7 linked regions of the Homo sapiens genome follow. The protein of the gene in region 1 purifies or fractionates together with the protein of each later gene. This does not show direct contact. Each region holds a gene or a part of one and is shown in the gene's direction. Other genes may lie near its edges. The genes, in order: MS4A15, ZMPSTE24, ANO5, EDEM1, SLC12A2, RNFT1 and SNX14.

The links.
Region 2: the proteins of MS4A15 (region 1) and ZMPSTE24 purify together in Homo sapiens (affinity purification with mass spectrometry; one large-scale study listed by BioGRID and IntAct). This does not show direct contact.
Region 3: the proteins of MS4A15 (region 1) and ANO5 purify together in Homo sapiens (affinity purification with mass spectrometry; one large-scale study listed by BioGRID and IntAct). This does not show direct contact.
Region 4: the proteins of MS4A15 (region 1) and EDEM1 purify together in Homo sapiens (affinity purification with mass spectrometry; one large-scale study listed by BioGRID and IntAct). This does not show direct contact.
Region 5: the proteins of MS4A15 (region 1) and SLC12A2 purify together in Homo sapiens (affinity purification with mass spectrometry; one large-scale study listed by BioGRID and IntAct). This does not show direct contact.
Region 6: the proteins of MS4A15 (region 1) and RNFT1 purify together in Homo sapiens (affinity purification with mass spectrometry; one large-scale study listed by BioGRID and IntAct). This does not show direct contact.
Region 7: the proteins of MS4A15 (region 1) and SNX14 purify together in Homo sapiens (affinity purification with mass spectrometry; one large-scale study listed by BioGRID and IntAct). This does not show direct contact.

What each region holds. Positions count from the first base shown.
Region 1 is NC_000011.10:60,759,404-60,763,842, forward strand, and holds part of MS4A15 (membrane-spanning 4-domains subfamily A member 15), read left to right. Parts: intron 1-4,302; 5' UTR 4,303-4,330; coding exon 4,331-4,439. UniProt on the Homo sapiens protein: May be involved in signal transduction as a component of a multimeric receptor complex.
Region 2 is NC_000001.11:40,271,290-40,275,728, forward strand, and holds part of ZMPSTE24 (CAAX prenyl protease 1 homolog), read left to right. Parts: intron 1-604; coding exon 605-746; intron 747-4,439. UniProt on the Homo sapiens protein: Transmembrane metalloprotease whose catalytic activity is critical for processing lamin A/LMNA on the inner nuclear membrane and clearing clogged translocons on the endoplasmic reticulum.
Region 3 is NC_000011.10:22,276,026-22,280,464, forward strand, and holds part of ANO5 (anoctamin-5), read left to right. Parts: intron 1-68; coding exon 69-174; intron 175-3,518; coding exon 3,519-3,740; 3' UTR 3,741-4,439. UniProt on the Homo sapiens protein: Plays a role in plasma membrane repair in a process involving annexins. Does not exhibit calcium-activated chloride channel (CaCC) activity.
Region 4 is NC_000003.12:5,211,271-5,215,709, forward strand, and holds part of EDEM1 (ER degradation-enhancing alpha-mannosidase-like protein 1), read left to right. Parts: intron 1-2,048; coding exon 2,049-2,252; intron 2,253-4,439. UniProt on the Homo sapiens protein: Extracts misfolded glycoproteins, but not glycoproteins undergoing productive folding, from the calnexin cycle.
Region 5 is NC_000005.10:128,187,115-128,190,759, forward strand, and holds the end of SLC12A2 (solute carrier family 12 member 2), read left to right. Parts: 3' UTR 1-2,563; downstream 2,564-3,645. UniProt on the Homo sapiens protein: Cation-chloride cotransporter which mediates the electroneutral transport of chloride, potassium and/or sodium ions across the membrane. Plays a vital role in the regulation of ionic balance and cell volume.
Region 6 is NC_000017.11:59,954,193-59,958,631, reverse strand, and holds part of RNFT1 (E3 ubiquitin-protein ligase RNFT1), read left to right. Parts: intron 1-187; coding exon 188-341; intron 342-1,249; coding exon 1,250-1,408; intron 1,409-2,078; coding exon 2,079-2,144; intron 2,145-4,439. UniProt on the Homo sapiens protein: E3 ubiquitin-protein ligase that acts in the endoplasmic reticulum (ER)-associated degradation (ERAD) pathway, which targets misfolded proteins that accumulate in the endoplasmic reticulum (ER) for ubiquitination and subsequent proteasome-mediated degradation.
Region 7 is NC_000006.12:85,513,859-85,517,489, reverse strand, and holds part of SNX14 (sorting nexin-14), read left to right. Parts: intron 1-2,860; coding exon 2,861-2,984; intron 2,985-3,255; coding exon 3,256-3,420; intron 3,421-3,594; coding exon 3,595-3,631. UniProt on the Homo sapiens protein: Plays a role in maintaining normal neuronal excitability and synaptic transmission. May be involved in several stages of intracellular trafficking. Required for autophagosome clearance, possibly by mediating the fusion of lysosomes with autophagosomes.

The sequences.
Region 1 (4,439 bases):
AAAGCCGCAGGGACCTCTGCCCAAGAAAGCCTGGGTGTTGTCCAAGGTTTCCCCCGACTGAGACAGCCCGAGATATGGCCTCGTGGGATTGGAAAGACCTTACCATCCCCTAGCCCGACACCCGTAAAGGGTCTGTGCTGAGGAGGATTAGTAAAAGAGGAAGGCCTCTTTGTGGTTGAGATAAGAGGAAGTCCTCTGTTTCCCACATGTCCCTGGGAATGGAATGTCTCGGTGTAAAGCCGACTATTCGTTCTATTCTGAGATAGGAGAAAACTGCCCTGTGGCTGGAGGCGAGATATGCTGGCAGCAATACTGCTCTGTTACTCTTTACTAACTGAGATGTTTGGGTAAAGAGAAACATAAATCTAGCCTACGTGCACATCTGGGCACAGTACCTTCCCTTGAACTTATTTATGATGCAGATTCCCTTACTCACATGTTTTCCTGCTGACCTTCTCCCCACCATCACCCTGTTCACCCTGTTCTTCTGCCGCACCCCCCATGCCAAGATAGTGAAAATAGTAATCAATAAACCCTGAGGGAACTCGGAGACCGGCGCCGGTGCAGTTCCTCGCATGCTGAGTGTGCCGGACCCCTGGGCCCACCGTTCTTTCTCTGTACTTTGTGTCTTATTTCTTTTCTCAGTCTCTTGTCTCCACCTGACGAGAAATACCCACAGGTGTGGAGGGGCAAGCCCCCTTCGATCATCACCCTCTTTACATCACACATATTCACTCTCATTCTGGGCTACCTGGTCCCTTATCAGAAGGGAACGCTCGAGCTAATGCTCTGGTACACACACAGATGTGGTTTGCAGACTCTCCTGCTTTTTTGCGAATTCAAGCTGATCATGCTTTTTTTCCATCAGAACGCCTGCAGTCTTAAACAACAGTTTCATTTAACACTTGCTCAAGCTCACATGATTATTAAAACTTATCCTGATTGCCAATGGCATTCTCTTTCCCCTTTTTCCTTAGGACTTGGTGCCAACCCACGAGGTCTGGTGCCTAATGCTATCTGGCAAACTGATGTTACTCAGTATCCACCCTTTGGACGTTTTAAATCTCTCCATGTTACTGTGGACACTTATATAGACCTAATACATGCTATCCCCATGCCGGAGAAAAAACTAAAGATGCAGTTGCTCATTTGTTTGAATCTATTATGACTCCAGGCCTTCCACAAACTGTAAAACTGATAATGGCCCCTGCTATCTTAGTGCTCACTTTGGCTATGCATTGCAACTTTGGCAATAAGATCAACATACAACCCAAGACTGGGATTCTCTGTAACTCAACCAGTCAGGCCATTATTAAACAAGCTCATCAAACTCGTAAAGTATATCTTAATAAACAAAAAAGGGGGAATATCGGGCCCTCTTCTCGAGAACAGGACCTGTCATTGGAGAATCGACTGACAATGACGGTGATGACTCAGAAGGCACCTGACATTACCTGGGGACAGCTAAAGAAATTGGATCAACAGGCAACTATCCGGCTTGCAGGCATAGAAGCCTCTGTAACTGCAGAGAATCAGTTTCTTATGTATCTGGGGGTAATTGGGAAAACTTCTGAGAAAGTAAGACGACATAGATGTTGGGGTGGCTGGTAATTCTTGTCCTTTGCCAAGTGGGATCACCTCAAGAACATGTTTACTGGAGTCATGTTCTAAATCCCCCTGTTTTTAATGTTATTTCATGGTGGGATGCTGACCTGCCTTTGTCATCTAATGATACTTCTTGGACGAGAGGTCGATGGATGCCCCTGTCTTACCCTTCAGTGGAAAATTTGGGATGGATTAAACTTAATAACTCCTTGGTTGTATTGTCTAGTAATCCCCCTCTTTGTTTTTCCACAATAGCACATGCTAAGTGTGTTACTCTTATTCTTCAGGAGTATCTTTACTATCAGTGTAAAAGGGATGCTAAGCTTGCAAACTTGACCTTTATTTCTGCTATTACCACTAATCTTACTGAGGTCTCTAATGAAGCTACACAAGTGCCTGATCTTCCTATATGCCGTCTGAGTAGGGACTGGGGATATAAGTTTGAGGCCATTCAGTGGTCTCCATCCAGACAGCCTGCGCCATGTCAAGGGCCTCTGTTTGATAATGGCACCTTACTTGATTGGAGTCCCCATGGTTATCTTATGTCTGCAAATCAGACTATTGGATCTGGGAGTCCCCAGTAAGTCTATCACCTGGTCAGAGTACAGGCTTTCAGGACCAATATTACAACTAAAAGGGAAACAAGCTTTAAGCCCTGCTCATACCCAAATTTGGAGATTAGAACTTCCTTTTTTTGAATGGGTTCTTTCACATGATGAGTATATTACTAGCAGTGGCAATTATACCCTCTGTTTCCATAATAATGTTACTGACATAGTTGTGATTTGTACTACGCACTCTTATATACTTTTGTTTGGGCAAAGTGTTCCTAATATAGAGCAGAATCAATCCTTTTATAGTAGTAAAGTCTCTTCCAGTAGTTAGTATGCTACATGCCTGTCTCATCGAAATGTTACATAGTTAAATATAACCTATGTCATGATCTTAAAATGGCGTGCAGAATTTTGGCTGCCTGTAAATTTAGCCTGGAGCTGGGAAGGAGATTCAACCCTGCAGCTGTTTAGAAAAGCACTGTCTCATACTCAGAAAAAAAGATTTCTGGCCACTTTAATTGCTTTTTTAGTCTCAGCTATTATTATATTAGCAACTGCTGCTACTGCAGCTGCTTTTTCTAACAAAATCTATTCACACAGCTTCAGTGGTGAACCACATGGTATATAATGTAACCCATAAATTTCAAAAACAGGTAAATATTAATCAAACTACTCTGTCTCACCTGGAGGCTCTTAAAGCTGCAGTTGAATGGCTGGGGGATCAGCAGCTGGCATTCATTACCCATCAACATTTATATTGTAATTGGCAATATAATTCTATCTATGTCACACCTCTGCCATATAATAGCTCCCAATATGCTTGGGAGAGAGTGAAAACACACCTGCAAGGGGCTTATCACAATCATTAGTCTTCTCAAATTCCCACTCTTAAGTGTAAATTTAAAAAACAACTTAAAAAATGGTCACAGCAATTATAAACAAATACCCTTCAACAATTATAAAAAGGCTTTCAATAGTTAAACCCAAACACTTAGTTATCTGGGTTAAACATACACATTTGGGTAATGGCCAATATACTTATTCTTTTTTGTATTTGTTTGCTAGGTATGTACAAATGGCTCTGTGCTGTCACTCAGTGCATCTATAACCAAGAAAAAGCAATAAAAGCTTACCTCGCTTTAAATAACCAACATACTCTAAAAATTAAAGAAGGGGGAGATGTTGAGGGTGCACGGCAACATATCCAAGCTTATGTACATGGCATTTGAGGTTGGGGCATGGAAAAATACTGAGGCACTCTGTGTATGTTATTTATGCATGAGAATGTAACTCCTTGACCCTAAAAACAGGACAAGGATTGAGGTGTGTAATAAGGAACGCTGAAAACAGCCTCCTAAGAAGGTGGTTTGAGAGCTTTTATAAGGTCATAGGTGTCTCATGACCCTCAAAAAGCCATCTAGTGGATGTTTGTGGTTTAACAAGCTCTTTCAATAAATACTTGGCGGACAGATGCTGGGGTGGACTCTCTCAGAAGAGCTCCCCGCCACCCCCGCTCGAGGCCCACTCAGCTGGAATTGTCTAAGAACTCATTCTTGGCATTCACTGCAAGCTATAAACTCTGCATAAAGTTTCCATATCTACACATTTCTTGGCTACATCAATGGTAATTGCTTGGGTGGCCAAATAGAAAGCTTCCCACAGCAGGTGGGAAGTTCCCATACCCAGGGGAATTATTGACGCTAGCTCAATAGTTGAGAGCTGAGAGGCAGGAAGTGGCAGTGAGTCCTGGTCTCGGGGTGAAGAAACCGGTACTCTAGCTAAGCTCTACCTTGCACTAGCTGTGTGTCCTTAGGTAAGTCACTTGCCCTTTCTGGGAAAAGAAGGGCATTTAAATAAACACTCCTCCAAAAGGAGCTTTCCACATAATATAGCTCAGAGATTAAGAGCAAGGCCTCTGAAACCAGAGAGACTAGAATTCAAATCTCAGTCTTACCCCACCTACAGGCCCTTGACCTCAGACATCTTTCGCTTCTCTGAGTCTCAGCTTCCCCAGCTTTGATGAGAGCGTTTGGGGCCATACTGGCAGGGCTGCAGTAAGCAAGGGAAGTAGGCACGTTGCTTATCAACTAAAAAGCTTTATGCACATGGGTGACAATCATCATTGCCATTATTATCTCCCAAGCCTTTGTTTCCCAGGCTCTCTGAGCACGATGTCTGCAGCTCCCGCCAGCAATGGAGTGTTTGTTGTCATCCCGCCAAACAACGCCAGTGGCCTCTGCCCACCTCCGGCCATTCTGCCCACATCCATGTGCCAACCTC
Region 2 (4,439 bases), on another chromosome or scaffold:
CAAGATCAGAAAATGGGCGCTAGTTGGATTTACAGGTATCTATTGTATGGCAAATTAAAGTAAGATGAAAAAGAGCAGAGAAAATGCTCTAAAAATGCTTAAGGAAGTGCTATTTCAACCACATTGTACAATTATGAACTACAGGTAATTAATTTTAGCTGATAAGCCAACCAAGTAACAGCACACAATCAAGTTCTACTAATTCTTTTTTGGGAAAGACTTCAGGTCTATTGTGATTACGCTAAAAGGTAGAACTGCGTGTTATGATTGACTCATGAAGCATCAGAAATCCCCAAGATAGTTTTGAAAGGACTATACTTATTACCACCTAGAGATTTTAATCACTGTTAGTAGCATTATCCTTTAAAATAAAATTCATAAGTTTACTCTGTTATCAGACTACTCATTTCAATTTAATTCATCAGACAGATATTATGCTCTTACTATCTGGTACTATTTGGGCCTGGGAATACCAGAGCAAGTAAGTTCCTTGTTCTCAAGTTTGAGGTCAACATAGTTGTTTTAATATAATTTAATCTGTATAATAAAGAATGTTTTTTCTTTAAGAACATGTTCATATGTTATTCTGACATTTACTTTTCAGGTTCTTGTCACAATCTATGCTGATTATATTGCCCCTTTATTTGACAAATTCACACCTCTGCCTGAGGGAAAGCTTAAAGAAGAAATTGAAGTAATGGCAAAGAGTATTGACTTTCCTTTGACGAAGGTGTATGTTGTGGAAGGTAAGGCTACCTGGGGATAAGAAAGTTTTATCCAAGTGGTTTGTTTTATTTGATACTTTATTCTTAAAATTTTAATAAAAGAATTAATCAGTTTTTGTTTTTTTCTTTTTAAAATTTGTTATTTAAAGGCTAGGAGTTTACCTTTTGGCTTTTTAAGATTTACAGAAATTGATAACATAGGCCAGGGATAGAAACTGGTGGCTTGATACCAAATCCTGCTCTTGTCTGCAGCTATGTTTGTTTGGTTTTACAGTATTGTTTTAAATTTTTGGCCAAGGCTTTTTCACTCTCTGTTATGTTATCTTATATATTAGACTGATTTATTCACTTCTGTTATCTGCCTAGTTCTTTTAGGTAGTTAAGTTGGACTCTTGAATAGTCAAATTCTGTTTAGTATTAGTTTGGAGGCTCTTAAACAAAGCCAGTGTTATTGGCCTTGTCTCCTCCAAGAAAATATCCAGTGTTCTGGAGGACTCACCTGAAGATTGATTACCAAAGACTGCAGTACCACTGAGTACTGCAGATTTGTTATACTCTGCTTTTTTGATGATTACTTTTGAGATTTAAGTGGTCTCTTGACCGTTACTCAAATCTTGACTTCCCATTAACACCCAGTCTATTACTTTCTTTGAGACTTTGGTAGTTGACTATTAAAGTCTCAAAGAAGACTACGGAGATGTAGAGAGAAACTGTTGTAAGGTTCTATGACTTTCAGAATTTATAAAGTCCATATAAATGAATGTAATAGTTCTGTTCCTGCCACTTACCAGTTATAGGATCTTGGACAAGTGACTTCACCCTTCTGGGTTTCAGTTGTATTTCCTCTAAGCTATGGTTTCACAAATGTTTTTTGTAAAGGGCTAGATAGTAAATATTTTAGCTTTGCGGGCCACTTGTTCTCTGTTGCAACTATTCAGTGCTACTATTATAGCGCAAAAGCAGCCATAGACAATACTAAACAAATGAGTGTGGCTGTGTTCCAATAAAACTTTATGAAAATAAATGGCAGATTGGATTTGGCCTGTGAGCTACAGTTTGCTGATCCCTGCTCTAAAATAAAATATTACCAGTGAGAAGCAGCAGTGTTAGATGAAGGAATAGAAGCAGAAACAATCACAGGGTTAGAGGAGAACAGAGATGGTCACAACTGAAAAGAATGAATCAACAGCAACTGGAAGAACATAGAAATTTCAGACATCTGGCTGGGCGCTGTGGCTCACGCCTGTAATCCCAGCACTTTGGGAGGCCAAGGCAGGCGGATCACCTGAGGTCAGGCGTTCGAGACCAGCCTGGCCAACATGGTGAAACCCTGTCTTTACTAAAATACAAAAAATTAGCTGGGCGTGGTGGTGCGTGCCTGTAATCCCAGCTACTTGGGAGGCTGAGGCAGGAGAATCGCTTGAACCTGGAGGTGGAGGTTGTGGTGAGCCAAGATCAAGCCATTGCACTCTAGCCTGGGCAACAAGAGCCAAATTCTGTCTAAAAAAAAAAAAAAAAAAAAAATATATATATATATATATATATATATATATATGTCAGACATTTAGTGGCTCCTGAGGATATACAGCCCAACTAAAGGCACGATTGGAGTAGCTTAAAAGTCTGTGGAGAAATGGTAGAATAAGCCAGTTCATACTTACTTCTTTAGCCTCTGAAATAACTACTCTTTTTTTTTTAGGTAATATTAAACTAGAAATTTAATCATTAATCAGTACAACAGAATAGTCTCTAAGCTGCTTTTACTGAAGGAGCAACCTAAGTTGCTGATCCCTTAAGTTACAATCAGATAACGTGAAATAATAGTTAATGCTATGACAGTGGAGGTAGTCAATAGAATATGTGAAATATATCGGTGCTATTTTCTTTTTATCTTTTTTTTTCCCCCTACAACATCCAGAGTATGAGAGCTATTTTCATTTTAGATAAAATAGTCAGGGAAGGCTTTATGGAAGGTTATGACCTGAGCTGGGTGTTAATGGGAAGTCAAGATTTGAGTAGGTTGGGGGCAGCATTTCAGACGTCAGGCTTCAGGGTCAAAAGGCTTGGGTTTGAATCATAGCTCTACCACAGATTACCAGTGCTGGGCTTGGTGGCTCCAGCCTGTAATCCCATCTACTGGGGAGGCTGAGGTGGAAGGTCAGGAGTTCGAGACAAACTACTTGTGTGACTTTGCGCAACTTAGCTTTGCCAAACAGCAGTTTACTCACCTATAATGTATGTTTTAATTGTTGTTAACAACAGTAACAATTCTCAAAAATATTTTGAATGAATGAATGTTGTTGCTGACAATAACAACACACATTACATATTTGTAAATTGGTAGGGAGATTGTAGTGAAAAGCCAAGAATCTTGCTCTCAAAATATTATCAGATAGCAAGTGCTATGCAGCAAATTAAACTAGTTTGGTCTGATAAGTTGATACTGTAGATTGGTCATCAGATTGAGCTGAGACCTAAAGGGAGGAGCCGCCCATTTGACGTCAATGGGAAGATGTTCAAGGACCATGAAGAAGTCCAGTGTGGCTGCACCATAGCAGGAGAGTGTTAGGAGATGAAATCTGAGACATAGGCAAGAATCAGTCCACATAGGCCTTTGTAAGTCAGGGTAAGGAGTTTGGATTTTGAGTTCAGTGGGAAGAGCCATTGAAGGCTTAGACAGGAAAGTGACATGATCTGCTTTGTGTTTTTAAAATATCCTGGGCTACTGTATGGAGAATATGTTGTAGAGACAGGCAAAAGTCTAGGTAGGACATAATGGTAGCTTAGACTAGGATAATAGTAATTAATGGAGAGAAGTGGATACATTTGGGACAAGTTTTAGGGTAGAGTTGATTGAATTTTCTAATTGATTGCATTGGGAGAATAAGGGAAAGAGTGACATCAAAGATAATGGCCTAGACTTTTGACCTGAGCAGTTAGATATATGGTAGTTTCCTGAGATGGAAAAAAATAGGAGAAGAGTAGGTTTGTGGGGAATTAAGACTTCTAATGGCTATATTACATATTGAGGAACCTACTAAACATTGTATTAGAATTCTGCAAGCAATAGAAACCAACTGTGGCTGATTTAAGCAGAAAAACTGCTTATTGAAGCACTATTTGGACCAGGCGCAGTGGCTTATGCTTGTAATCTCAGCACTTGGGGAGGCCGAGGTGGGCGGATCACTTGAGGTCAGAAATTCGAGACAAGCCTGGCCAACATGGTGAAACCCTGTCTCTACTAAAAATACAAAAAAAAAAAAAAAAAAAAAAGCCGGGCGTGGTGGCGGGCGCCTGTAGTCCCAGCTACTTGGGAGACTAAGGCAGGAGAATTGCTTGAACCCAGGAGGCGGAGGTTGCAGTGAGTCAAGATCGTGCCACTGCACTCCAGCCTGGGTGACAAAGCAAGACTCTGTCTCAAAAAACAAACAAACAAACAAACAAAACCAGTATTTGGCCAGGCGTGGTGGCTCACGCCTGTAATCCCAGCACTTTGAGAGGCTGAGGCAGGTGGATTACCTGAGGTCAAGAGTTCGAGACCAGCCTGGCCAACATGGTGAAACCCCATCTCTACTAAAAATACAAAAATTAGCTGGGCATGGTGGTGCACACCTGTAGTTCCAGCTACTGGGGAGGCTGAGGCAGGAGGATCGCTTGAATCTAGGAGGTAGAGGTTGCAGTGAGTCGAGATCGCGCCACTACACTCCAGCCTGG
Region 3 (4,439 bases), about 38 Mb from region 1:
TGAGGTCTCTCTAGTTGAAGCTATAACTATTATTATTTTTTTTTTTTGCATTTACTTCCACTTTTCAGGTACAGAGATTACAGATATCCTCCTGATGACGAGAATAAATATTTTCATAATATGCAATTCTGGCATGTCCTTGCTGCCAAGATGACCTTCATCATTGTTATGGAAGTAAGCTGTTCTTAACTTTCATTCGAGTTACTCTCTTCTCTCTTTAGGCAGATATTTCTAAAGGTAACCTCTCATCAGAAAGTTAGCAATATCTCAGTAAACTGTCTTGAAGGAAGTATTGTATTTGTAGTCATAAAAAGCACCTTAGGGATATTCTTAGTACAATGGATTGCCTATTATTCACTTATTATTGTTGAACATGTCATGGTGACAGAAAAGGAAAGGAAAACAAATATGGTTTTTTTCCCTTCAAGTCAGGAAAAGGGGAAATAACCCACTGATTTTAGAGAATACCTATTACTTACTAGTTCCAGAGGCTGTATTAAATCATAACAACATTGTTAATTAGACCTTATCGCTCACCTTTGAAAAGGAATCTGAGATTCAGCAAAAATAAGTAGCTGGCTTAACGTTAACTAACTAACATTAGCGCTGAGTCTCAATGCCAAATGTGCCTCACTCCCAAGCTTATGCTCTGTCTACTATATTATGCTTCCTCTCTTGTGGAATATCTAGTGTAGTTATAGAGATAAGGCCTGCAAGAAAAGGTAAACAATACAGAGGCAGTATTGGGCAAAGTTTCAAATTGAGTGATACAAATCATAGGGCAAGAAGGCCTATCAGGGAGAGAAAATAAAAGAAAGGTACTTTTTCACCCTGGAATAAAGCCCGATAAAAGACAATCCTAACCCAAGAACATGCCATTCCAACCAGTTTCTGTTTTTTTTTATTGTTATCAAGGTTTCACATGTAATTTTAAAAATCAAATAGTTCTGCATGGGAAAAAAACAAAAGAGCAATCGTACATAATATACCTGCCTACCCTAAAATCCTAATATCCAAAGTAAACTTCTCAATTTTTTTAACTCATTCTTCTAGTAGTTGCCCTTGTATGGCAAAAGAAGATCATTTTGCAGTTATATATTTTTATTTTTTAGGTTGAGCTATCAATTACTGACATTCTACTTTGGCAGATCTCACACACACACCCACACAGACAGAAAGAGAGAGGGGGAAAAAAAACTTTCTCCTACTGCTCAATAATTAAAGCATATTTTTTTGGTCTCATTCTGAAATTCAAAACCTCAGAAAACAGGAAGTATTTTGATAATTTATTTAGCAGCAACATATGATCTAATTCTGCCTTTATTATTTTTAGTGTGACTATTCATTTACTTTGCTGCAGAAATATTTAAGTGTTTGATACAGAGTGCCACCTGAGACCCTGCTGGTTTATACACTAAATTACATATGTTTAATATTTAATCTCAATTCTGAAATATTTCTGTCCATCAGAGTTTTGATTAAGAGATTTTATATAAATACAATAGTCAGGGTTTATAAATTATGACTTTATAAATATTAGTCACATCTGTTTCCTGTCTTATATTCTGAACATATTTCTTTTATTATAATTGTACTTTTCTTTTCTCCCTCTGTCTCTTAGTTCCTTATGAATTTATCAGTCTTTCATTCCAACATTTTGCGTCAGAAGTTTAGATCACCTTTCAGCCAGTAAATTACTTCCGGAATTCTTTTGTTTTAATTTATTTATTATTTGTGTTAATTTTTTGTAATCATTGCAGGCTCCAACCAAGCATCATCCTGGGACTTCTCTTCATCTTGTCTTCTATTGAAGACTAAATTTTCTGCAATCTATGTTTCTCCCATTTTTGGTTTACTAGCTTATTTTGGTGAAGCACATCTTCTAGTAATTTTCTGAGGAAAAATTATGGGCAGTCCATTTTTGAGAAATTGAAGATTGAAAATTTCTTTTCTTTCCTTACATGTGATTATTTGGAATAGAATGTATAATTAAAAGTTGTTTTTCTTAAAAAAATTTTTAATCAACTTTATTTTGGTATTCCTGAAATTTTGAAGATATTGCTTCATTTTCATTCAGCTTCCAGTATTGCTACAAAATGCAATACTATTCTGACTCCCCAGTCTTTGTGTATTATCTATTTTTAAAATCAATACGGTTTTAGGATTCTGTCATTAGCCCCATTTTTATGAAGCTTCACAAGATGGTTCTTTGCTATTTGTCAATATTCATTGTTTTAAACACTCATTGAGCCCCTTAGATCTAAAAACGTACTTACCCTTCAAGTTGAGAAAATTTGCTGGCATAATTTCTTTGATAAATTTTTGATAATGTCTTTGATAAATTTTTTCTTTCTTTGTGCTGTCTCTCTGGAACTGCTGTTATTCAGATTTACACTTCCTAGTTTGAAATTCTAATTATTTGTTTTCTATGAAAACCTGGATTAATATCTTTTTTAAAATTCTACTTTTTTCTTTTACTCCTTTCCTTATATCTGGTTCTTTTCCTTTTTTTTTTTTTTTCCATGTCAGAGATGACTTACCTACATATTTGGTGGTTCTGCTCATGTTTAAGAGTGTGGAAGTGAAAAGCTGATTTTAAGCATTTTGTGCATACAGGAGTGATGTCACTTGGTGGGTTTCACTGTAGGTTGATAACGTAGTGAGCTGATATTTTCACTGGATCCTTACAAAATTTTGACATCCACAGTTCTGCTTTTACAGAATAGTTATTTTTCCCAGAGAAAGCCCTTTATAGCTGTCTATTGAGATATTTTGTGGCTACCTATTTTCTAAGACCTGAGCAAGGCAGAGGGGCTATGTATCTCACAGTTCATTGTGCTGAATTTCACTGTTTTTACTTTTTTTTTTTTCAATATGTTGTCATACCTCCACTGTGTCTGGTGCCCCTGGATTCACAGCTTTGTGGTATAATTTCTGCAGAAAACAAACTCTTCAGCTGCTTCCAGGGTATAGCATGGAGTGAAAGAATACCTGGATACAGATGGGAGAAAGGCTCCAAAAATTCAAGTGCTCCTTATGCAGATTTGTATCTAATCCTCTTGTTTTCAACTCCAACTCAAACTAATACCTTCAAAAGTCCTTATTGCCTTCTTTCCTGAACTTTTGTGACCATCTGAAACAAAATTGGCTTTTGTCTTTTTGGTTTCCACTATCAGTCACCACATCACCATTTGCAAGTTTGCTAGCCTTTTTCACTCTTTTGAGTCTAATTCCTTTATAAATATTTTATCAGGTTTTCAGGAAGGAGCAGTGATAAAGAGTATATTCAATAATCATGTTCAACTGGAATATTGCTAGTTACATATTTAAGTATATATTTATTTGTTTGATGTTGATCTTTGTATGAAAGTTCTAGGACAGAGACCATATCTTCTTCCTTGCCTTTCTACCTCATATGTTGAGCAGTTTCTTAAATAAGTGAAATGATTTGTAAAGACTTTCTGCTGAGCATGTGACACCTCTAACAGCGTCTAATCTTTCCTTTATATTTCCTCTAGCATGTTGTGTTTTTAGTTAAATTTTTGCTGGCCTGGATGATACCTGATGTTCCAAAAGATGTTGTGGAGAGAATCAAGAGAGAAAAGTTAATGACTATCAAGATTCTCCATGATTTTGAGCTCAACAAATTAAAAGAGAACTTGGGAATTAATTCTAATGAATTTGCCAAGCATGTCATGATTGAGGAAAACAAAGCACAGCTGGCTAAATCAACACTCTAATCAGTATAGTGAGGAAGCAGCAGGTGATCTGCCTTACTTCACTTTATCCTCTGGTTTTAGGGCCAGACGCCAGAAGCCATGTGTCAATTTTACCCTTTCTTTTTTTTTTTTTTCTTTTTTTTTTTAAACTCAAAGTTTTTATACACTTTTATAGAGGCCAACTTTGTGATGTTGGAAATGTACTACTTCTCTGCTTCATTGACTGGGCCCTCTCCAGATGTTGTTTTCTGAGGTGCTGTAAATGACTGTTGAAAGTGCAGGTAGAATCAGAATACTGGGAAATTATGGAGTCTTGCAGTTTAGTAAGAAACACTGGCCTTGGGCTGTCCCATCACTTTCCAGTGCATCTATTTATTTTTGTGGTCTTCTCTTGGGTTATTTGATACCTCCTTCCCCATTAAGAAAAATGTTGGGGCAAAAAGAAATGGATCAAAGAGACTGACTGAGCCCTATATATCCTATCATTTTAAAATATGCAAATGAATTGCCAAGATCAGATGACATAAGAAAACTCACACATTAAGGTGTTAATGTATCATAGCAGAGGTTTATTCCTAACACATTCAACTACCATCAGAATCCCAGATAGTTCTTCCTGGTAAAGGCAGAATTCCTTTTCTCGAGACTGAAATTTTGGGTTTCAACATAAAACAACTTGGTTCTTAGAGATAATAATTTGGTTATAATAGTTTCAAGACT
Region 4 (4,439 bases), on another chromosome or scaffold:
TTCGCATAGTCTTCCATCTGACAGGTACTTACTGGCTAAAGCTATGTGCTGGACATTGTGCATTCCCAGGATGCAAACGCTGTCAGAACCAAAGGATATTACTATCTTCTTTCATGGTTTCCAACCTTGTTGAAAAGTCATTTGTCAAGTAAACCAAGAACTGAACTTATGATTACAAACTGTGGGAAATCCTGGTAACGATTGATACAGAACCAGTGTTAGTTCTGTATCTAACTACAGGTGGTCGGGGAAGACGCCTCTGAGGAAGAGAGCTGTGTTCATAATGGCTTCTCACTTCTCTTGATGTATGTGATCTTAGCCAAGACCTGCAGCTCAGCCTTGTCTCTGTCCATACACACATCCTCAGGCACATGAGTGAGTGAGTGTGTGTGTGTGTGTGTGTGTGTGTGTGTGTGTGTAGAGAGAGAGAATTTCTGGACCTGGACGAACCCTTTGGTATTACCTAATGTTCATATGTTCATCATTTCCCTCACAAGAACTACAGCCTACACAGAGGTCAGGCGACTTGCTCAAAGTATGGCGATGGCTGTGGCAGAGCTGAGGTGTGAACTGTGGTCCTGACTCCCTGTCTGGTGCTCTTTCCATCTCACCGCTCTGCCTCGTGCATACAGCCACTCTCGTGCCCCCTGCCACTTTCCTCAGTATGGCCACATAGAAACAGAGGGCAGGATTTCCAGGTTAGAAGATAGCATGGCAACTGAGAACTTGGGCAGAGGGTCAGAGATAGAAGCAGCTGTGATAAATTGTGTTTATCTAGTTCCGTGGTTCCTAGGCCTGGGGCTAGCTGGGTCCAAATCACCCTGGGGCCCTTGCTAAGATGACAGCCATATTAAGTCAGAATCTTCAGAATAAGCGGGCTCAGAAATCTGTCATTTTGACAAGTGCCTCCAGTGGTTTCACATGAGCCAGGTTTTGGAGCTGCTGGTCTAATCCATTAAGACGATACTCTTCTCTGTCTGGGGTCTTTTCACAGATGACTGCAGAGGTATGTCCACCAGCAGCCCATGTGATCTGTCCAGTGGGAAGACAGCTGTCCTGCTGTCGATTCCTGTGTGTGCAGTGGTTCTTGCTCTCCTTGCAGGTGGCTCAGTTCTGCTAAATCAGGCTGGTCAGAGCCTAGCTACATATTTCCATCCAGCAGCCACTGGTGTCAGAAGGACGTTAACAGGGCGAGTTTTAGAGTAAAAGGAAGGTGACCCTGGAGGGTGTGCTAGCTGAAAGAACCTAGAGTCTGGGGAGAGGAAAACCTGTGGTCTACCCTGTTCTTCTCTTGTTACTGTGTAAACATTGACAAGCTGCACTGAATCTCATTTTTCCTCATCTTGAAATAGTTTAGGTGACCAATAAAGTTTCAAAGAGTTTCTAGGTATTCATTCATTCAACATTCACAGAACACTTGCCTTCTCCTGCACTGTTGCATCCCATATTGGGTTAGATGTTCTTTCTAGATGCTCTTTCGTTCCGTGTCACATGCACCATTGAGGGAAAGGACTGTGCCTTGTGTCCATTGCGTCTTCAGAGCCCAACCCTTGTTGTGCAAGAAGTGAAGTGAATGTTGGCAGATGTGTTGGGCTCTGTGCTAGGCCCTGGGGAAATGGTGGTGGATAAAACTTGGTCCCTCCCTGTCAGCATTTACAGTTCAGGGTCTAGGTGTGTGTGAGGTTGGGTGTAGTTCTAGAATTCCAGCAGGAGAACTCTTAGGTAGCACATGGAAATCATCCAGTGAACTTTTATAGACTACCTGTGCTTGGGCCTTAGTTTCAGAATTTCTGAGTCTCTGCGTCTGGGCAGGGTATGTGTAGGGGAGAGGCAGGTCTGGGCATCTGAGTTTAGATGAAGCAGGTGATTCTGCCTTGCAGCCTGGGTTGGGCACCACAGTTGTCAGTCAATTCCTTTTCACCCAGTTGTCACTGAGAAGCATGAGGCCCAAGCAAATTCTACTCCCTGAGTAGCTGGGACACGCCCCCATGATTCAGTTCCCAGTGTGCTACAATTATTGGTTGTATCTTTTTCTCCGTTCCCTCTAGCTGTTTGATGAAGACAATCCAGTACACAAGTCTGGAACCAGATACATGTTCACAACAGAGGGACACATTGTATCTGTGGATGAGCATCTTCGGGAATTGCCATGGAAGGAATTCTTCTCTGAAGAGGGAGGGCAGGACCAAGGGGGAAAGTCTGTGCACAGGCCGAAACCTCATGAGTTAAAAGTCATCAACTCCAGCTCCAACGTGAGTTGCTTTTTCCAGGGGTGATTTGCATATAGAGGAAGAGAAGATACTATGAATTGCTTAGTTGTTCAGACTTCCTGACAGAAAATTGATGGTGTATGCAGATTGGGAGATTTGAAAACACCTCCTAAAGACACCATTTACATAGCTGTTGTCAGGGTATAGGGAAACCGCAGGAGCAGCGGTGGCATCATCACTGCTGGCTGCAGGTGCTGGTGGGGAGAGTGGCTACAGGATCCTGGAAGGGGGGAGCCTTGTGGGAGGAGCGAGCACTCAGCAGGAGCCACGGCTCAGATCTGACTTTCAAGGCCTTGCCTGGAGGGAGCCGGCAGAGTCAACATGTGACCCCTCCCCGCTCCCCCAGTTGCCTGCTGGAGCATCTTCTTGGCTGCCTGGGGCAGAAGCTGGAGGCCGAGGGAGCCTGTTGATATGATCCATCAGTGGACCTGGAGGGGCAAATGGAAGACATTCAGCAAAATCATTTACCAGCAGCAGAAGGGAAAAAAAGCAGTGATGGTCACGATGGTCCCAATGAAGATGCTCTTCGAAGTGCAGCAAACACCCACATTCATTTAAAGTGGGGCTTTACTCCACATGCCTAGATTGTCCTGAGAAGCAGCAGGAAAAATTTGGAAATGGAAGTCCTTGCATCCCTAGTGAAAGTATCAGGTAGTTGTGTTGATTTGAATCAAATAGGATGATTTGGAAGTGAGGATAGGGAAATGTAGGTCAGTCAAAATTTCAAATCTTGTTATCCCCCAGGGCCTTGGTGGTCAGGAGTTCGGCAGCCTCCCCACAGATGGGTTGCCTTGGCATTAGGGGTGCCCTCTCATCGCCGACTGTGCTTCAGTGCTTTTCCGTTAATGCCCCAGTGAAGGTCTTCACCATCAGTCTATGAAGTAAATCGATAGGCCAGAGTGTAGATAACCACCCCCGCCCCCATTTCCATCAGTCATGGAGCGCTGATTGAGTGGACAAAGCATAATCGGGAGGAAGGGGAAGGAGGGTGAGAGGGGGAAGAGTTAATAACAGCCAGCATTTGCAAACACATACCAGGGTTAGCCTTTGCACCATTCTAAACGCTTACGTACATTAATCTGTTTACTTCTAACAACAGCCCTGTGAGGGGTGGTTACTTTTAACATCTCCATTTTACAGCTGAAGAAAGGGAGGCACAGAGAGGTTCAGGTCCCACAGTGGAGCCAGGATTTGGACCCAGGCAGTGTCTTCTCTTTTAGGAAGGAGACATCTCTGACCTGCCATACTCACTAATAGATCTGATCCCATGATTCCAGGCACCAGGGATTCAGGCCCTCAGAAGGGCTCCCGGTTCTGGATAGGAGCATGGCCTAGTGGGGAATCCACTTCCATCCTAGGCGTTTGTCTGTAGTGCTGTTGAAACACAGAGGGTAGGGAGTAATCTCCAGAGAAAATCAAGGCAGGATTCCCTGAGGAGGTCACTTGCTGGAGATCCTTGAAGGATGAAAAGGGGTATCCCAGAAAGGGTGTTCAGGCAGAAGCAGTAGCACCTGCAAAAGCACAGAGATGTGGGCTGGTGGGGGCAGTCGGGACCAATGGAAGGACCGGCCAGTCTTGATCTTGCCAGGGATGAGGAGCAGGGTGTAGTAAGTTCAACTTACTACAAAGCGTGGGGAAAATGTTTCTTTGGAGATGAAGCAGATAATGAATGTATTTAGACAACTGCTTCCAGGGATGTCACAGTTGGTTAGTTCTCAAGATGTGCATCTGCTTTGAGGAAAAAAAGTGGTGGGGGTGGGGGGGTTTTAATTAAAGAAATAGTCTTAAGCATTTAGAGTTTAGTGAGTTGTGAATGAGAAAAACATAGCTCAGAAAAACACAGTATTTTCAAGTAGCAGAAATGTTTTCTGAAATTCTGGGCGGACTAAGGACCCCAGGGATGTGGCTTTCAGTCCTGGCCACGAAGCAGTTGCTGCGATGCCTTTTAGCTTCCCTGGATCTGCCATTTCTTTATAAAGTGAGTGAGGATGTTAAATTATGTCACTGGTCTTCACCTGAGGGTGATTTTGCTCCTCAGGGAACATTGGAACAGCGTCTGGAGACGTTTTTGATTTTCACAGCTGAGGCGTAGGAGTTGCCACTGGCACCTAGTGGGAGAGGCAAGGGGTGCTGCTGACCGTCCTGCAGTGTACAGGCAGCTTCCACAAC
Region 5 (3,645 bases), on another chromosome or scaffold:
GAGTACTGTATGTGTTTTGTTAATTCTATAAAGGTATCTGTTAGATATTAAAGGTGAGAATTAGGGCAGGTTAATCAAAAATGGGGAAGGGGAAATGGTAACCAAAAAGTAACCCCATGGTAAGGTTTATATGAGTATATGTGAATATAGAGCTAGGAAAAAAAGCCCCCCCAAATACCTTTTTAACCCCTCTGATTGGCTATTATTACTATATTTATTATTATTTATTGAAACCTTAGGGAAGATTGAAGATTCATCCCATACTTCTATATACCATGCTTAAAAATCACGTCATTCTTTAAACAAAAATACTCAAGATCATTTATATTTATTTGGAGAGAAAACTGTCCTAATTTAGAATTTCCCTCAAATCTGAGGGACTTTTAAGAAATGCTAACAGATTTTTCTGGAGGAAATTTAGACAAAACAATGTCATTTAGTAGAATATTTCAGTATTTAAGTGGAATTTCAGTATACTGTACTATCCTTTATAAGTCATTAAAATAATGTTTCATCAAATGGTTAAATGGACCACTGGTTTCTTAGAGAAATGTTTTTAGGCTTAATTCATTCAATTGTCAAGTACACTTAGTCTTAATACACTCAGGTTTGAACAGATTATTCTGAATATTAAAATTTAATCCATTCTTAATATTTTAAAACTTTTGTTAAGAAAAACTGCCAGTTTGTGCTTTTGAAATGTCTGTTTTGACATCATAGTCTAGTAAAATTTTGACAGTGCATATGTACTGTTACTAAAAGCTTTATATGAAATTATTAATGTGAAGTTTTTCATTTATAATTCAAGGAAGGATTTCCTGAAAACATTTCAAGGGATTTATGTCTACATATTTGTGTGTGTGTGTGTATATATATGTAATATGCATACACAGATGCATATGTGTATATATAATGAAATTTATGTTGCTGGTATTTTGCATTTTAAAGTGATCAAGATTCATTAGGCAAACTTTGGTTTAAGTAAACATATGTTCAAAATCAGATTAACAGATACAGGTTTCATAGAGAACAAAGGTGATCATTTGAAGGGCATGCTGTAATTTCACACAATTTTCCAGTTCAAAAATGGAGAATACTTCGCCTAAAATACTGTTAAGTGGGTTAATTGATACAAGTTTCTGTGGTGGAAAATTTATGCAGGTTTTCACGAATCCTTTTTTTTTTTTTTTTTTTTTTTTGAGACGGAGTCTTGCTCTGTTGCCACGCTGGAATGCAGTAACGTGATCTTGGCTCACTGCGACCTCCACCTCCCCAGTTCAAGCGATTCTCCTGCCTCAGCCTCCCTAGTAGCTGGGACTACGGGTGCACGCCACCATGCCCAGCTAATTTTTGTATTTTGAGTAGAGACAGGGTTTCACCGTGTTGGCTAGGATGGTGTCTATCTCTTGACCTTGTGATCCACCCGCCTCAGCCTCCCAGAGTGCTGGGATTACAGGTGCGAGCCACTGCGCCTGGCTGGTTTTCATGAATCTTGATAGACATCTATAACGTTATTATTTTCAGTGGTGTGCAGCATTTTTGCTTCATGAGTATGACCTAGGTATAGAGATCTGATAACTTGAATTCAGAATATTAAGAAAATGAAGTAACTGATTTTCTAAAAAAAAAAAAAAAAAAAATTTCTACATTATAACTCACAGCATTGTTCCATTGCAGGTTTTGCAATGTTTGGGGGTAAAGACAGTAGAAATATTATTCAGTAAACAATAATGTGTGAACTTTTAAGATGGATAATAGGGCATGGACTGAGTGCTGCTATCTTGAAATGTGCACAGGTACACTTACCTTTTTTTTTTTTTTTTTTAAGTTTTTCCCATTCAGGAAAACAACATTGTGATCTGTACTACAGGAACCAAATGTCATGCGTCATACATGTGGGTATAAAGTACATAAAATATATCTAACTATTCATAATGTGGGGTGGGTAATACTGTCTGTGAAATAATGTAAGAAGCTTTTCACTTAAAAAAAATGCATTACTTTCACTTAACACTAGACACCAGGTCGAAAATTTTCAAGGTTATAGTACTTATTTCAACAATTCTTAGAGATGCTAGCTAGTGTTGAAGCTAAAAATAGCTTTATTTATGCTGAATTGTGATTTTTTTATGCCAAATTTTTTTTAGTTCTAATCATTGATGATAGCTTGGAAATAAATAATTATGCCATGGCATTTGACAGTTCATTATTCCTATAAGAATTAAATTGAGTTTAGAGAGAATGGTGGTGTTGAGCTGATTATTAACAGTTACTGAAATCAAATATTTATTTGTTACATTATTCCATTTGTATTTTAGGTTTCCTTTTACATTCTTTTTATATGCATTCTGACATTACATATTTTTTAAGACTATGGAAATAATTTAAAGATTTAAGCTCTGGTGGATGATTATCTGCTAAGTAAGTCTGAAAATGTAATATTTTGATAATACTGTAATATACCTGTCACACAAATGCTTTTCTAATGTTTTAACCTTGAGTATTGCAGTTGCTGCTTTGTACAGAGGTTACTGCAATAAAGGAAGTGGATTCATTAAACCTATTTAATGTCCATTCTTATATCTGTTTAATAAGTCTTTGCCAGCTTTGTGGTTTTATCTCATTTCGATAACTATTGCTTCATTCATTTCTGAATTTTTAAAATAGCTTTTACCTTAATATTCACGCCCTGGAAAAGTCGTTCACTATTCTTAAACCTTTGCAATAATCACTGTTGATGCTCACAGTATGACTGAACCATCTGAGATGCAGCTCATTATGGTATTTTTTTAAGTGACCTAGCTTTTCTAATTCTGCTTTATCTTTGGGCCAGATCTCTCATTTGTGAATGAGGAAACTGGAAGATTAAAAGCGATTCATAGTCCCTGAATATAATCTGATTCTTTCCTTCCAAAGATTTTTGTCTAAGCTCATTTAGAGTTTTAGAAAGCATTTTCATTTTCTCATTTGAATATGACTGTAGGTGTGTATATATGCAGGACAGCTATTTCTTTTACTCTTGAGAAAGCAGCTTGGAGCAGTTTAGGGAGTTTTCCAAGGTCATGGGGTAAATCAAGGAAGGATATTGGTCTAGAGCCCAGGTCTTTTATCCCCAGGAATTTCTTTATTATGCATTCACTGCTGGCTGATCCATAAGATAGATGGCTGGGATAGATTGGTCATTTCCAGATTGGTCATTTCCAAATTACTTACACCTGTCCGCCCAGTAAATGTGTGTTCAGGTAAGGCAAATTATAGTTAGAAATATAGGTTGGCTACAGGCTGCCTTTAATAGGTTTGAAACAAAATGTAAATATCCATTTTTTGATTTGTCATCTTCCTTATTCTCAAGCCACTATTCAGGCCAGTTTACTCACTTATTTGGAAAGCTAAAAGAGAATTTGAAGGCAACTATGTATGTGACATTTTCTAATATCAGACCATCCAACAGTTTTTAAAACAGGAACATCATTCACCTTTGAGCCAGCAGGCTTTTGTTGTTCACTCACCAGGAAGAAAAGATAAATCCATTTGATATGCTTCCCTCTTTATGTTTATGTACCTATAGGAAGTTTGTAGGTCCAGAGGAAATAGATGGTAGTTTAATGTTTAACTTTTGGGGAAAAGATGGTACAAGTTCTAGGA
Region 6 (4,439 bases), on another chromosome or scaffold:
CCAAACAGGTTTAAAAAGTCTCTTTAAGCAAAATGATCCTCCATTCCATTATTGTGAACTCTGACATCCTGCCAAACTCATATTTTTTACATATCAAAATAAAATATTTGTAGCAAATTAAAACCCTTTATTAATACTTTATCTTTGTATGTTGCTCTGATAAATTTTGATGTTTTTCTTTTGGTAGCTTAATTTTTTTAAATCCTACTTTGGACCATTTGAGCTTCTGGGAAGTATTTTGGATTGTTGGAATTACAGACTTCATTCTGAAATTCTTTTTCATGGGCTTAAAATGCCTTATTTTATTGGTGCCTTCTTTCATCATGCCTTTTAAATCTAAGGTAAGAAACTCACTTATGCTTTATTGGAGTGATGTTATCGAATCACATTAATGCTATTTAGTCTTTGTTTAAATGAATCCTCCTTTTGCAGTTTTTCAGTTTGCTAACTAGCTTAATTATCTGTATTATTTCAGCTTAGCAACCATTTGTTCAGGCACTTGAACCTGATTATTAACCTATTTGGATAAAATCAGAATTATATTTGCTTCAGAATAATTTTAAAATCAGTCCCCACATCATATGTGGGAAACTATTTAGATGTGTACTTCTGTTCTCCAGGGCATTATCAATTGACAGTTGACTATGTACAATTATTCAGTGGTTTCCCATATGCACTAAAAACTTTTAAATTCTTATAATCAGCAAAAACATACTCACATAGGTTTTACTTGCAGTATACATAAAACATTCTCATTGTATCTTTTTTTTTGGTTTTGTTTTGTTTTGAGATTGTCTCTCGCTCTGTTGCCCAGGCTGGAGTGCAGTGGTGTGATCTTGGCTCACTGCAACCTCCGCCTCCTGGGTTCAGGCAGTTCTCCTGCCTCAGCCTCCTGAGTAGCTGGGATTACAGGTGCCCACCACCACACCCAGTTAATTTTTGTATTTTTAGTAGAGACGGGGTTTCACCATGTTGGCCAGCTGGTCTCGAACTCCTGACCTCAGGTGATCTGCCCATCCCAAAGTGCTGGGAGCCACTGCGTCCAACCTAGAAATTCTTTCAAAGCAGGCCACTCAGTGACTGTAATATGTGAGAACCAGCTTGAGGTTCAGTCATAATCATTATGAAGATTAATTTTATAGTTATTTATATTATTGTATAATATACTCAGTGTTCTCAGTCTAATATTGTTTGTGCTATGTAGTTAAGTAGTTTGGGTAGCTCTATTTGTTTTCTTCTTATTTTTTAGGGTTACTGGTATATGCTTTTAGAAGAATTGTGTCAATACTACCGAACTTTTGTTCCCATACCAGTTTGGTTTCGCTACCTTATAAGCTATGGGGAGTTTGGTAACGTAACTAGATGGAGTCTTGGGATACTGCTGGCTTTACTCTACCTCATATTAAAAGTAGGTAACATTACAAATCTTGTCACTGCATGATTCACATTAATGATTACTGATACATACTACTGTTTTCCTCTTTTAACAGTTTTATAGTTTATCTTCATATCACTAGTTTGAAGTAATAGCAGGTTCTATATTTGTTTAGAAATGGAGAAACGGAAATAGACTATCTTAATCCAGCGGTCCTCAGGTTTCACTGGAGGGAAGGGGAGTCGACCTTCACATAGCGTGGATTATCTAAGTAGGGAAAACAAGTGGAATAGAACATACCCATCCTCAACAGTAACATTGTCATACACATAATTCTTAAACTAGTAGAGTATCTTGTCCTGTTCTCTCCATGCCTGCACCCCTCAACCTAATAATCACTTTATGAAACTTTAAAATCTAAATGTTAAAAACAGGTGAATCAGATAAAATTGCTTTGACTTTGACATAGTTGTATTTGTCTTGATCAAATTGTTACTCTAGGTGTTTAAATGTACTTCAGCTTGCTGAGATGGCTCAAATCTATAAATTGAATAAAATACTCAGCACAAAATGATTAGATGTGACATATAATGAACATTAAGTTAATATGAGGATTTGATGTTATGGGATTTCAGCTTTGGTTTTTGGGTTTAGCAAATAGGACTGTTTGAATTAATAAATGATCTCTTATTTCTCTTTTCAGCTTTTGGAATTTTTTGGGCATCTGAGAACTTTCAGACAGGTTTTACGAATATTTTTTACACAACCAGTAAGTACTTTTTATCAGTTAAGAAAAACACCTTCACCTTTCTTCACTGCAAAAATTTTTTTAGTTCAGCAGTTTTACAAGAATGGATTTCATAAATAGATGATCCTTTTCTTTTACTTTGATTATTTTCTAGTACTTTGGCACTTGGGGCTATAATAATTTAGGAGTTTTATCTCTGTGATCAGATTCTTGAATCACACATTGACAACCACCTGCTAATTGTTGCAGTGCTTATATATTTGAACTTGTCTCTTGCCTCTTCAATCCACTGGACATTTTTAAGGCTTGTAAACCCTTAACAATCTTATGAAATTGTGTTCCTCTTTTTTAATCCACAAATGGGGGCTTTGTTTGTTCCTATTAACTCCTTATTCACCTGTGAAAATCCTTCCATTGTAATTTATTGTTTAGAAAGCTCACTGCCAAAAATCATGTCTCTTGCAGTTTTCTTACTGGAGCAGATTTCCCCATTGCTCAATTATATGTGCATAAATACGTTCATGGCATGAAATTTAACAATTAATTGAGTCTCTGGTGTCATTTATAACATTATTGTGTGATTCTATTGATGTTGCAAATTGCAGTGAAAGGATGTCATAGAGAACCCTAATTTACCACTTAGTAGCCTGAAAGGTTCCTAGTACCTATGTGTGGTCAGCAGACTTCAGGGTTTGATTCTCAATTTTGCAGTCATTTCATCAGGGCCCAAGGAGACTGACTTAAAAGAATGCCAACCGAATAATATACCGTAAAAATAAAAAAAGAATTATGTCTACAAAGTAAACGAGACTAACTGGCCAGGGCCTTTTCCCTAAGATAGAGTTAGCAATGTAGAAACAAACTTTGCTACATCCTATGCAAGCTTGTTTCTCTAGACAAGACATAATAAAATTCAGAGAGTTCAGCTTTGTCCAAGTCAGTTCAACTGATGATTATGTGAGCATCAACCATTTTACTATAATTGGTCTTGTAAGATTTGTGCCGAAATACTCTCAAGAAAATACCCTGATATTCTTTCTCTGAGACAAACTACAGAGAGGATATCAGTCATCAATACTTGGATTTGTTCAAGTCTCCTTTACCAGGGAAATGGCAGTTACTATCTGGAGAGGGAGTCTCCAAGATGCCAGATGAGTAACGTCTTAAAAGCTTGTCAGCATAATTATCTGCAAATGTACTTTGCTAAATGACACCTTACTGAAGGGAAATTGACACCAAGATCATCTAACAGTATCCTGACTTATTTCTGAAATCTTTATTACCAGTTTCAAAAAACCTCAATTTTTAATATCTTTATCCTTTGAGTTTTACTTTGATTTTGATGTTGTTAGCCTGAGACGTTTTAGTACAAGAAGTTTAGATAACTTCAGCTATGTTAAGTCATGCTTTACCCTCATGACCGTGACTGACTTGGGTGTTCTTACATCTCTTTAGTTACCTCTTCCCCATCATTTCTACAGAAAGCAGGTTTCATTTGTAACATTTTGATTTCTCCAAATTTCACTGAGGGTTATTGACATCACATCTAGTTAATGACTAAGTTCTGAATCTGGTGAGGAGGTTAAAATCTTAGAGACGAGTAACTTGTTATTAGGACATTAGAAGAGAAGAAAATTCAAATAATTGCATTTTTGTTCAGTTAGTTTTGACAGTAGTTATTCTACCAAAGCGACATTTACAGTTGCAGTTTCTCCGTAAAACTTTTTTATGTTTAGCACTAAATGCTTTTTATAATTTCGAATAATTTTTAGACCTAGTGGCAGAAAATTCTTCAGTGGTCCCTAAGTCTTCTTCATATTGCACTCACTTGGAGACCTTTCAAATAATAGATTACTGGGTCACATCCCAATATGTCTGGTCCTAGTGAATTGATATTGTGTGGAACAGAGAAATCTATTTTTAAAGCAAGCTTTCCACATGAGTTACATTCAACCAGCCAACCTCTGGCTGGATTGACTTTATGAACCACTGCTGCAGGTAATAAGCTCAATTTGGCAGTCCTGGGTCAAATAATACATGGCTATAGATTTTATAATAGTTACATTTCAGATTGCTTAGTCTCTTAAGCCAGTTATGTTGAATTTGAAGCACTATCATCCTTTGTAAAGCTAGTAGATCTAACAATCTTTCAAAATCCTATTATGTATTATTTAATGATTTCATTTTGGTGCACTCAAGAGGTGGTTCTGTATATGGCTCAGCTTTGAGATGTTTGTATCCTTTGGGAAGTTTTTCAAATGCCTGGTTCCAGGGAGATTTGAGAAGTACAGCATTACTTATGTAATTTGAGGAACA
Region 7 (3,631 bases), on another chromosome or scaffold:
AGGTTATATGTCACCAACTTTCAATAATAAGAAATTAATTGCTATACTGTGTTTATGTTTATTGGATGGCATTACCTAACTTTCATGGCTTATAAAGTATTTTATCCATTCATTAAACAAACATTTTATTACATGCCTACGATTGAGTGCTAGGCACTGGGAATATAAGGATACATTCCTTGTCCTCAAGAAGGTGTTTAGTGCCAAGGTGTAGTGCCCAGCATGGGGAGCTATGGAAGCTCAGAGGACCTCTATCTTTTATTTTTGTTAATACTCTGAATGGTATCTTTAATATTATTAATGTTTTCATTTTATAACTTGTATATATAGATAGAAAATTTTTATTTAGTCGTCTTGCTAGACTTAACATTAGTTTTAGTAATATCTGGTAATTCTTTTATATTGACACAATTGTTGCAGATGATTGCAGTTTTGTTTTATTCCTGACTAGGACTGCTATATAGAAAGGAAATTGTTTAATTATTTCACCATCGAATAGTGTGGTGTAGCTCTTTTTGTATTAATAGATAACCTTTATAAGATTAAGGAAGTTGCCAGGTGCAGTGGCTCACATCTGTAATCCCAGCACTTCGGGAGGCCAAGGTGGATGGATCACTTGAGGTCAGGAGTTTGAGACCAGCCTGGCCACCTTGGTGAAACCCTGCCTCTACTGAAAATACAAAAATTAGTCAAGCGTGGTGGTGGGTGCCTGTAATCCTAGCTACTCGGGAGGCCGAGGCAGGAGAGTCGCTTGAACCTGGGAGGTGGAGGTTGCAGTGAGCTGAGATCGCGCCACTGCACTTCAGCCTGGGGGACAGAGCAAGACTCTGTCTCCAAAAAAAAAAAAAAAAAAAAAAGATTAAGGAAGTTTACATTCATGTTTATGGGTAGAATATAGCCTATAATTTTTCTTTCTCATTCTGTCCTTGTTAGGTTTTGGTATCAAAGTTTTATTAGCATTTTTTATTTTTGGTAGACTTTTTATAAATATTTGATAGAGTTGGTAAAGTCATCTAGGCCTCCAGTTTTGTTTGTAGGAAGATTTTTTATAACCAATTTAATTTCTTTAACAATTACAAAATTCTTCAGGTTTATTACTTCATGAGTCATGAAGGTTACAAAATATAACCTATTGAACTCATGCTAGGAATGCTAGGAATTTGTCAGGGAGAAAAATAAGAGAAGAGCTTATAACATGTAAAGGTGTTTATTAAAATATTGTTTACATAAGTGAAAAATTGGAAACAACATGAAATTCTAACATTGTAGGAATGATTATTTTAAGGAACATCTATTCAAGGAGTGTTTTGCAGCAGATGAAATTGTGCTTATGAAAACTATAAAGCAACATAAAGATATTTGATATGGTGCTAAATGAAAAAGTAGGATGTGATATTTTTTGAACCTCATTGATTTGTGGCTATGTATATAGAGAGTACAAGTTAATATACAAAAGTTTAATAGTAACACTATTAGGTGGTTGAGTTTTAATTTAAAAGTTTAAATGCCCCTTTGCTCTGTGTCACTTTATTTAGCCTTAGTGATTATTGTCAACAGATGTAATAAACTGTATATCTCTTTATTATTTCAACTTTTATTTTAGATTTCTGCTTAAAAATAATGCAAACCGTGCTGAAAATACAGAGGGAAAACAAAATTGAGTTGTTTTTCCCGTTTTCCAGACTTACTATATAATATCACTGTTTTTTAGTGAAAAAAAAAATTACACTGAAAATTTAAAAGAGTAGAGGGAATAATATATCAGAAGGGAGAGCCCTTTTCCTATTTTTTGGGTTGGGGAAAAATGTTTTAAGTATGTGTCTGTGTTAATAATATCTGACATAAGAGCCAATAGAATATATGGTCTTTGTTCTCAGGATACTTTTCTAGGAGGCTTTTAAAAAATTCATCTTCAGGTAAAATCGAATATACTTTCCTCCACAGTCTCCTTACTTCTCTTCCCTCTCCCCTCCCCTCTTTCTCCCTTTTCACAGAGTCTCACTCTGTCACCCAGGCTGGAGTGCAGTGGTGCAATCTCTGGCTCACTGCAACCATTAATTCTTAATATCTTGTTTTAGTTCCCCCCCACCCCAACATTGATTAGGCCTTTGTGGGCTTTGAATATTGTCCAAATAAATTTCACCTAACGCTGGATTTTTACCTCTACTTATAGTGATTTATAATCTTTAAATCATGTTAGTGTTTTTTTTTTTTTTTTTTTTTTTTTGACGGTCTTGCTCTGTCACCCAGGCTGGAGTGCAGTGGCACGATTTCGGCTCACTGTTACCTCTGGCTCCCAGGTTCAAACTATTCTCCTGCCTCAGTCTCCCAAGTAGCTGGGACTACAGGCACGCATCACTACACCTGGCTAATTTTTTTGTATTTTTAGTAGAGATGGGGTTTCACCATGTTGGACAAGCCGATTTCAAACTTGCGAGCTCAGGTGATCTGCCTGCCTCCGTCTTCCAAAGTGCTGAGATTACAGGCGTGAGCCACTGCGCCTGGCCTAAATCATGTTAGTTTTAAAGTTAGCTATCAATAATATATTTGTACATCTTTTTATGTTACTTTGCTTTTGTGGTATGTAAAAACAAAGGGGTCTTTAATGGATAATGAATTATCTACTGTAACTAAAATGAATATTTTAGTTTTTATGTAATATTTTTGGGGAACATGTATTTTTTATTGCAATTCGGGGCATAAATGGGGAATTTTAGAAGCATATATTAACCTATCTAATATTCTGTTTTGATTGGAAAAAGTTTAAATGCCTTTGCTGTGTGACACTTAATCCTTATTGATTATCGTCAGCAGATGTAATAAACTATATATCTCTTTATTATTCCAACTTTTATTTTAGCTTTTCAATGATCTGTTTAAAAATAATGCAAACCGTGCTGAAAATACAGAGAGAAAGCAAAATCAGAATTATTTTATGGAGGTGATGACTGTAGAAGGAGTCTATGATTACCTGATGTATGTAGGTAAGATCTAAGTGGTTTAAGACTTGTTTTTCATTCATCTTACTTCTTCTGTGATGCAAATAATGATCTTGAGTATTGCCCCATCATAACTGTCTTTTTAATTGAAGATACCTTTTATAATAATTCAATACGATTGGCCTTGATCATATTAAAGTTGCTAGTGTTTACAAATAAAATATTGACCATGGTCATTTGTGTTTTCTACATTGGCAAATTTCAAAAATACCAATTCATCTGGAACAATGAGGTATCCCATTTGATCCTTTCTCAGGACGGGTAGTTTTCCAGGTTCCTGACTGGCTTCATCATCTCTTAATGGGAACTCGAATCCTCTTTAAAAACACCCTGGAAATGTATACTGATTACTATCTTCAGTGTAAACTAGAACAGCTATTTCAGGAGCACCGTTTGGTCTCACTCATAACACTTCTCAGAGGTTTGTATTTTCTAATGTGTTTGTTTCATATTTTGTGTACTCTATGATTTTAATTGAATCTAAAGAGGAAGAAATCTTGTTTTGCTTTGGTTTATTAGTATTTCTACTATGAGGAAATCCTTTGTGTATAAATAGATGAAAATTCCAGAAATATTTCTTTTTACTCTTTTTTAGATGCTATATTCTGTGAAAACACTGAACCTCGCTCTCT